Regions from separate parts of the Homo sapiens genome. Here region 2 is linked to region 1. The links come from fine-mapping of genetic effects on gene expression. A gene starts in region 1. The other region holds a variant in brackets. All regions are shown on one strand. Distances are from middle to middle.

The links.
Region 2: its variant is fine-mapped to the expression of SPG21 in thyroid (GTEx, PIP above 0.99).

The regions. Positions count from the first base shown.
Region 1 is chr15:64,988,094-64,992,093 of GRCh38, forward strand. It overlaps SPG21 (SPG21 abhydrolase domain containing, maspardin), which reads right to left and starts at 1,821. Exons shown (of 9, transcript NM_016630.7): 1 at 1,572-1,821. RefSeq lists enhancers at 1,028-1,529, 1,530-2,029, 2,085-2,154, 2,195-2,254 and silencers at 1,258-1,552, 1,355-1,404, 1,525-2,014.
Region 2 is chr15:64,959,334-64,963,859 of GRCh38, forward strand. SPG21 (SPG21 abhydrolase domain containing, maspardin) reads right to left here. Exons shown (of 9, transcript NM_016630.7): 9 at 3,689-4,403. The coding sequence ends at 4,287. Among named protein-coding and RNA genes, the nearest start is that of SPG21, 28 kb to the right of the region's middle. The variant A/G (reference allele first, on the strand shown) is at 1,904.

The DNA of each region.
Region 1 (4,000 bases):
CTCCTGTAATCCCAGCTACTTAGGAGGCTGAGGCAGGAGAATTGCTTGAACCTGGGTGGCGGAGGTTGCAGTGAGCTGAGATCACACCACTGCACTCCAGCCTGGGCGACAGAGTGAGACTCTGTCTCAAAAAACAAACAAACAAACAAACAAAAAAACCTGCCAGTTGTGACTATGCCCCTATCCCTCATGGCTTCAACAGAACCTGCCACTTTAAAGTCAACAAAATCACCTTTATCAATGTTTAAGTCACATAACCAGCATAATTAGTCAGAGGTTTCTGCTACTTTATTTCAATCTATAGTTGATGTGCATTGTGGAAAATCTGTGCTTATAAATACTAGCCATAACAAAATATTAGAAGCTGAGAGTCTCTGGGAGATGCAACTGGCTTTTTAATGCACGTCTCCATCCCTCACCACAGAAGTACACAGCTATCCTTTTCTTAGATCTCTTCAGGGGAGATCTATCCCTCTTTTCTTCATTGCATTATCTCTAAACCTTACAGGAGGAAAAGGTGCCTACCTGACATCTGTGACATCTCTTCTCATGCTCTTGGGAAAAAAGCTTTTGGAATTTGGACACAGCTATTAAGTTACTCCTCAGTGGCCAGCCGCGATGGCTCACGCCTGTAATCTCAGCCCTTTGGGAGGCCGAGGCGGGCGGATCACGAGGTCAGGAGATCGAGGCCATCCTGGCTAACACGGTGAAACCCCGTCTCTACTAAAAATACAAAAAATTAGCCGGGCGTGGTGGCGGGAGCCTGTAGTGCCAGCTACTCGGGAGGCTGAGGCAGGAGAATGGCGTAAACCCAGCAGACAGAGCTTGCAGTGAGCTGGGATGGCGCCACTGCACTCCAGCCTGGGCGACGGAGCGAGACTCCGTCTCAAAAAAAAAAAAAAAAAAAAAGTTACTCCTTAATTTGTTGAATCTTTGTGCCAAAAGGAGCTGAACCAGTGTAGGTGGAGACAAAGGAAGCAGCATAAATGTCTAACTTATAACTCCCCAGGAAAACGAGAAGAGGAAAAATGAGACACTCCGGTCCCGCTCTGTTCCTCATCCCCCGTTTACAAACCTTACACCTGGCCCACACTCAGTAACAACAAAGACATCTATCACTTTCAGGCCGAGGTCCTGTCTCCAAAATTACTGGCCTCTGCTCACAGTTCTTAAAAGTTTGCTGAGAAAAAAAAAAAGAAAGAAAGAAAGAAAGAAATGTTCCTGGGCTGCAGTCGTGTAGCCCCAGGATGGGTTTACAGGAGGATGCCCCGGTTAAGCCCTGTGCCGCCCCCACCTCCCGCTGGAGACTCACACACAGCTCCCCGCCAGTCCCACCGGTGACAGCCACACAAAGGCAGGGTCACAAGCACACCGACCACCCCACAGCCCAGATTCGGCCCCAGACACACACTCACAAGGGCACGTGATCACGTGCGTGGTCACATGGACCGGCCCACTCAGAACACACTCACAAAGTCACACCAACCAAGGCAGCCACGCGCCACACACACACACCTACAACCCCGCATACCGCACACCCAGCCGCTTCCCAGGGCTTCGCCCACCCTCACCTGCCGTGGCCGCCCCCACGTCCCTTCCCCTCCTTCAGGAGGCCGCTCTTCGCTCCAGTACGAGCGCGGGCCGTGGAGGCGGCTGGGCCCGGGTCGGGGCGGGCGGCGGAGCACTCGGGACCCACGGGCACAGCAGGCTGCGCGGTGCGTGCGGGAGGCCGGCCTCTGAGGGGGCGGGGCGCGTGGCCGAGCGAGCTTGGGCCGCCGCGCTCCCCCCGCCCGACCGCCGCTCAGCTGGCGCGAGACTCCCGCTTCCGGGTTCTCAGAGGGCGGGGCCACGTCGCGAGGAAGGGGCGGTGCTGCGTGGCCCCGGCGGTCGCCACGGCGACGGGCGCGGGGGGAGGCTCCGTGGGATGCTTGGCTGCGGCTGGCGTGAGGAGAGGGCTGAGTTACGTCTGGGTCAGCCTTAGTTCTGCCCTACGTACCTAGGAGGAGGAGGAGGTGGAGGAGGCGCCTGGCCCCTTGGGACCTGCTTCTTCTTTCAGTTCGCGTTTTCTCTGTCGTGTACAGCTTTGGAGGGACACCTTTGGGTTCCAGACTTTGATGAACACAACTTTGTATACTCTTTTCTTAGGAACATTTTTTTTCCTTTGGCACAACCGTAGACGCTCTCCGTAGTCCTCCACTCAAAGCCTCCGCTTCCTTTTTGACGTTCTGGGGATTTCTGGGAACATACGCCCACCCATCTTCCTGTTCCTTCATCACTTTTCCCTTAAAATCAGAGAGAATATTAATACATTTGTAATCATTGTTCTTAAGGTGTTGCAGACGTCACGTCTTAAGGTGTTCCAGACTTCACGACTCCTTTTTTATTAGTAAAATATTTCTGAAATTATGATAAGGTGAATAACATGTAAATCTCCTTGTTTTGAATTTTTTTTTTAGGGATCCTGCAACAAGGTCCTGTTGAAAGTGCCTCTCTCTAATATGTTTTAGGGAAAGCTTGTACCCTGTTTTAGGGCCTGTAGACTTTGCCTTTACCTAGGCAACTGTTTATGGGATTAAGGTCAGGGAAGATTCCAACTAAATTGCATCCTACTTAGTTATCACTTCTGTCCCCTGGCCCAGGAGCCTTGGGTTCCACTCTAGAACTTGGACAAATCCCAAAAGCATTTTCCAAAAGCACGGTGACATACTTACCTTTTTCTTTCTTTCTTTTTTTCTCTAAATCATTTCTTTCGGGGTTGCAACTCAGTCGCAGGAATTCATCTTTTATTGTAAGCACCACATAGATGTATAGAGCACGTTTCCGTGGAGTATTTTAAGTTGGGGGCCTTTTCTCCAACATTTGGAATCGTTTAATGGGTGGAATAACTTGCAAACTACTGGTTGTCTCTGAAACTGGTTATGGATATTCATTACATTAGTTGTCTATTTTCCCAGGTGGTCTCGAAGCTTCAATCTAGAGCAAAGGGAATAGAGTGATTCCACCAGTCCATTAGCACATGATTAGCCCATAAATAATAGGTACTAAATGTATATTGATTGTAATCCCAGCACTTTGGGAGGCCAAGGTGGACGGATCGCTTGATTGAGCCCAGGAGTTCGAGACTAGCCTGGGCAACCTGGGAGACCCTGTCTGTACAAAAAAATACAAAAATTAGCCGGGCGTGGTGGCGCATGCCTGTAATCCCCGCTACTCAGGAGGCTGAGATGGGAGAATCTGTTAAGCCCAGATGTCGAATCCACTGCACCACATCCTAGGTGACAAAGCGAGAGACCTTGTCTGCTCCCAACAAAAAACTATATTGAATGAATTAATGAGTGGAATAAATAAATCTATCCCCATTTCCACATTTGTTCCTAAAGCTGTATTCCTTAGACCCCATCCCTAGACCCCATTTAGTAACAGCTTTAATGAGACCTAATCTATGGATATACCCGTATGTTAAAAGTCATTGTTCTGTTAGTGTGGTAGTAAACTTTGACAATTGACAATAAAAAAAAATCACTATGTAGATATGTTTTGTTACATATCAACTTTTATTACAATGTAGACCAATCCAAAAATAATAAATGTTTTACTTCTTTCAGGAAGGGAAACCATGGTCATGTTTGTGTCCTCAGTTGTTCCATAACACATGGCAAGCACATTGTCCCTTTCCTAATCCCAACAAAGAACATTTAATATCTGTGAATTCCAGCTGAATTGTAATGCACAAATTCAGGCAGCAAACTTTTGATTCAGGCAGGTCCCAGTGCAGGCTGACCTGGTAGACATGGCTGTAAGGATTTGCAGCTGTTGTGGCTGGGGTCTGCCAGATGGTTCCCACAGCACCAATTCATCTGTGAGAATCTCACAGAAAAACTGGAATGTTCACAAAATATGCTGTGAACACCAAGCAAAGTAAACAGATGGCCAGCTGGCTCTCAGAATTACCCAAACCCGGGCTCTGTCCCTCTTAATTTATCTTTTCACAGGATAATAT
Region 2 (4,526 bases), 28 kb before region 1:
CTAATTGTGACTCTCCTTGTTTCTAAAATGTATATTTAAATCACTTTTCCAATGGATATTTACTTACAGTTACTCCCTCCCTTTTCTTTGAGACGGAGTCTTCCTCTGTTGCCAGGCTGGCGTGCAGTGGTGCGATCTCGGCTTACTGCAGCCTCCGACTCCCTGGTTCAAGCGATTCTCCTCTTCAGCCTCCCAAGTAGATGGAATTACAGGCACATGCCACCACGCCCAGCTAATTTTTTTTTGTATTTTTAGTAGCGATGGGGTTTCAACATGTTGGCCAGGATGGTCTTGATCTCCTGACCTCGTGATCTGCCTGGGTTGGCCTTCCAAAGTGCTGGGATTGCAGGCGTGAGCCACTGTGCCTGGCCCCTTTTTAAGATATATACTGTACTTAAAACTATTCACATATAGTCTGCAGGTTTATATACTTAAAAAGTGCGAAGTCTTTCTCCTGTGGATCCCAAGATAACTTCTAGAAGCGGGTACAGGCCCTGGATCACATCATGTATCAAAATGAACCCATAAAACTCCCAGGTTAAGAACTGAGGTGAAGGAGTCCCTGGCTCTTAGTGGAGGTTGCTCCCCGCATCTCTTCCTGTGTGCAGAGCTTCACTAAATGGTTACAGCCCCACTTCAGAGTTTCTGAAACTAGTCTGATTTCCACAACAGAGGTCCCTTAGTGTTCATGCACTGGCAAGTGACAAGATCAGACCTGTGTGTGGACCACACAGAGGATGGGTGGGGGTGGGAGGAGATGGCTGGTGGAGCCAGTGAGGACTGTAGTAGTCTGGGCAAAAGATGCCAAGGCCTAACTTGTAGTGAGGAAGGCTCAAGTTTGCAGGCAAGTTGCTAGATCTCTGAGAGTCAGGGGATATAGGTGTAGTAGATGTGGAAATGCATTGCCCGGACCCCCTTCTTCCAGGAAGGCCTTTCCATCCAGCTGCAGGAGTGAGCTGGGCAGATGGCCTCCAGCTGTCAGCCCTTCAGGGTCTGCCTCAGCTGCAGAGAGTTGCCCCACCCAACACCCTGCCCTCCCCAGGGCAGCTGCCTCTGGGAACTGAGCTACGCGGGAGCATAGAGACCCAGCCATTTTAGTCCTCCATGAAAATATTCCAGTGGGTGCTTCAAGCTCCTGCGTGCCCTACTGAGTTGGTGGGTACTTGATCGGGCCTGCATCACAGTTCAATTTCGCTCTCTGCCCAATCCATCTTCCCTTCACAGATGTTGTTTTTTTGTTTTGTTTTGGAGATTGAGTCTCACTCTGTTGCTCAGGCTGGAGTGCAGTGACACCATCTCAGCTCACCGTAACCTCTGCCACTCTGGTTCAAGTGATTGTCCTGCTTCAGCCTCCTGAGTAGCTGGGATTACAGGCACGTGCCGCCAGGTCTGGCTAATTTTTTTGTATTTTTAGTAGAGACTGGGTTTCTCCATGTTGGCCTGGCTGGTCTTGAACTCCTGACCTCAGGTGATCCACTCCCCTTGGCCTCCCAAAGTACTGGGATTACAGGTGTGAGCCACCACACCAGGCCACAGATGTTGATCCTTAATAAACATCTTGCACCCAAATTTTCATCTCTGCATCCGCTTCAGCCTGAGACATGGGGGTGGAGGAGTGAGTGGGGGTGGAGGGTCCAAGATGGCTGAGTTTCTAACTGGGGATTCCAAGAAATAGTGATGCCAGGACCTAAGAAAATGGGGCTAGAAGAGGAAGGGCAGGTTTGGGCAGTGGGGCCATGGGCATAGCTTTTGACTGGTTGCCTGTCGAAGGCTGAGATGCCTGTTGAAGGCTGGCCTAATAGGCCTGAGTACGCATTCAAGGCCAGTACTCAAAATTGATCAGGGCTGGCAATGACAACTTGCAGTCATCAGGGGGCAGAGCTGGGGAGTAGTTAAAGTTGTT[A/G]GACGGCTCTAGTAGCCTCAGACGCTACTAGTTAAAATGTCAAGCTTCGCCCTTATGGTTTACCAAGTGTTTCCATAACTCATGACTGTTGTCAAGCCACAGATAGAGAAGACAATGTGGCCCCTTTGTGGAAAGATCACTGGCTTTAGGGATGGTCAGATTCAAGGTGGCATCCCAGCTCCACCCCTTACTGCCTGACCCAGTCTCCAGGTCCTCACCTGTAAAGTCAGGATAATCAGGGCTGTATTGGGGATGAAGTCTAAGAAGGTATGGCCAACCCAATATTCTGAAACCTGGCACATAAAGGGAAAGAAGCACTGATGCTTATTTTTCTGTCTAAATTGTATCTCAGCGAAACCAAGCAGTCGATGAGGGCAAGTTTTTGTTTTTTTAAATCGGTAATTTCCAGTTAATAAATGCAGAAGGAATGATAAAAATTAATATTATCACTGACCTGCAACCCCTCATGGAATGATGCACCTGTGCAATGGTCAGCAGTGGCAGCTAAGCCAGCAGGGGACTTTCTCAGGACTGGATCAGGCTGGTGATGCCTGAACACACCCAGCAATCATAATAACTTAGACACAACCAGACAGATGCCTCCTGAGATGACGCGAGAGAAACACACAGCCCCATCTATGCAGTGTTCCTGCCAAAAAGATCGAGCTTGACCTGATCAAGCCTCTTGATGTAACTACCAGTTTACAGGAAATACCAGGGACAGAGAAACAAGTGGAAGGACACCATGAGGCCACAGTCAGCCAAATCTGGACTGTGGGGCAACTACAGGGCAAATGAACCTGTTTCTTCACTGAATATATGGCAAGAAAAAATAGAGGGAGGAGGAGCTTCCAGTTCAAAAGAGATCTAAGAGACAAAGTGTGGGCTTTATATGATTAGAACAAGTCACCTATAAAAAAAAATTTATGGAATAATTGTGAGTGACAACATTCACTGGATTATTAGACAATCCAGTGAAGGAATTATTGGTAAATAATTGAAGGAATTATTGGTAAATTTTTAAGTGTGATAATGGTATTAAGGCTGTATCTTAAAGGTACACATAGAAATATTTACAGATGAAATGACACAGCACCAGAAATGGCTTTAAAATAATTTAGTGATAGGAGCATGTGTGGAAGAAACGTGGGTAGGTTAAAAGATGAACAAGTCCGGGCATGGTGGCTCATGCCTGTAATCCCAGCACTTTGGGAGGCTGATGTGGGCAGATCACCTGAGGTCAGGAGCTCGAGACTAGCCTGACCAACATGGAGAAACCCCATCTCTACTAAAAATACAAAATTAGCCGGGCGTGGTGGTGCATACCTGTAATCTCAGCTACTTGGGAGGCTGAGGCAGAAGAATTGCTTGAACCCGGGAGGCGGAGGTTGCGGTGAGCCGAGATCACGTCATTGCACTCCAGCCTGGGCAACAAGAGCGAAACTCTGTCTCAAAAAAAAAAAAAAGAAAAGATGAACAAGACTGTCTGAGAGTTGATAATTTTTGAAGCTGGATGATGGGAACATCATTCATTATGCCATTTTCTCTACTTCATGTGGGTTTAAGCATTTTCACTCAGGGGAAAGAAGACGAGAAAAGTACCTGGCACACAGTAGCAGATCAATAAATGATAGCTTAGGGTTATTTTATGATGTGCAAACTGTACTTCAGGGAGATTAAGTAACTTACCCAAAGTCACACAGAATTGGCAACCATGACCTACTTCTCAGAAAGTCCTAGGCCTGTGTAGCCCAGTTGGGCAGCAACAATAATCACAAAAGCGACTCAGTTAAATTGAATTTTTATTCCAAATGACTAATATCTAGAAAGGCAGTAGCTAACACTCAAAACAATTTGTTTAAGTGTAAATTAAAAGCAGTTGATTTGCAGGAGAGCAAACAGTGGGGTAGTGGCCATGGCACTCTGATCATGGTTATATCCAAGAAAGCATAAAATAACCAATGTCCTGATATGCAATCTGGATGTGCAGCATTTACAGCAAACAACATAAAAAGAAAGAAAGAAGAATGGAAAAGAAAAGAAGAAAAAAACCACCACAAAGTCCCAAACCTCAGAAATTAACATTCACTTAAGAACACAGTGGTGAAGACTTTTGGTAGCAAAATTTGCACGGTTCTTAAAATGGGAGTCTTCAAAAGTACTTCTTCAAATTCAAAAGCTAAGAAAACCAAAGAGGGAACAGTTACACAGGCTTAGTGGAGATGCCGCCTGTCATGAAGATGACCATCAGTCCTACTTCCCAGACACAGTGAGAACCGGTGAGCCTGACGAACCTGAAGGAAAAGGCTGGCTGACGGGTGCTGATGCCACTGACTATACAAGAACACACCGGGTCAACTCATCATTGACAGCGAGAGACACACTACTGCTCCTCCTGGCTGATGCCAAGGCTGCCTTTCTGCACCTCAAGCTCCTCGGCACTGACCATTGATGGGTCAATGGCCGCGTATTTGGTTCCATGGAATTGCAGCAAATGTATCTGTTGAAATGCAGAATCATTATTTTATTTATTTTTTGAGCTGGAGTGTCACTCTTGTTGCCCAGGCTGGAGTGCAGTGGCACTATCTTGGTTCACTCCAACCTCCGCCTCCCGGGTTCACCC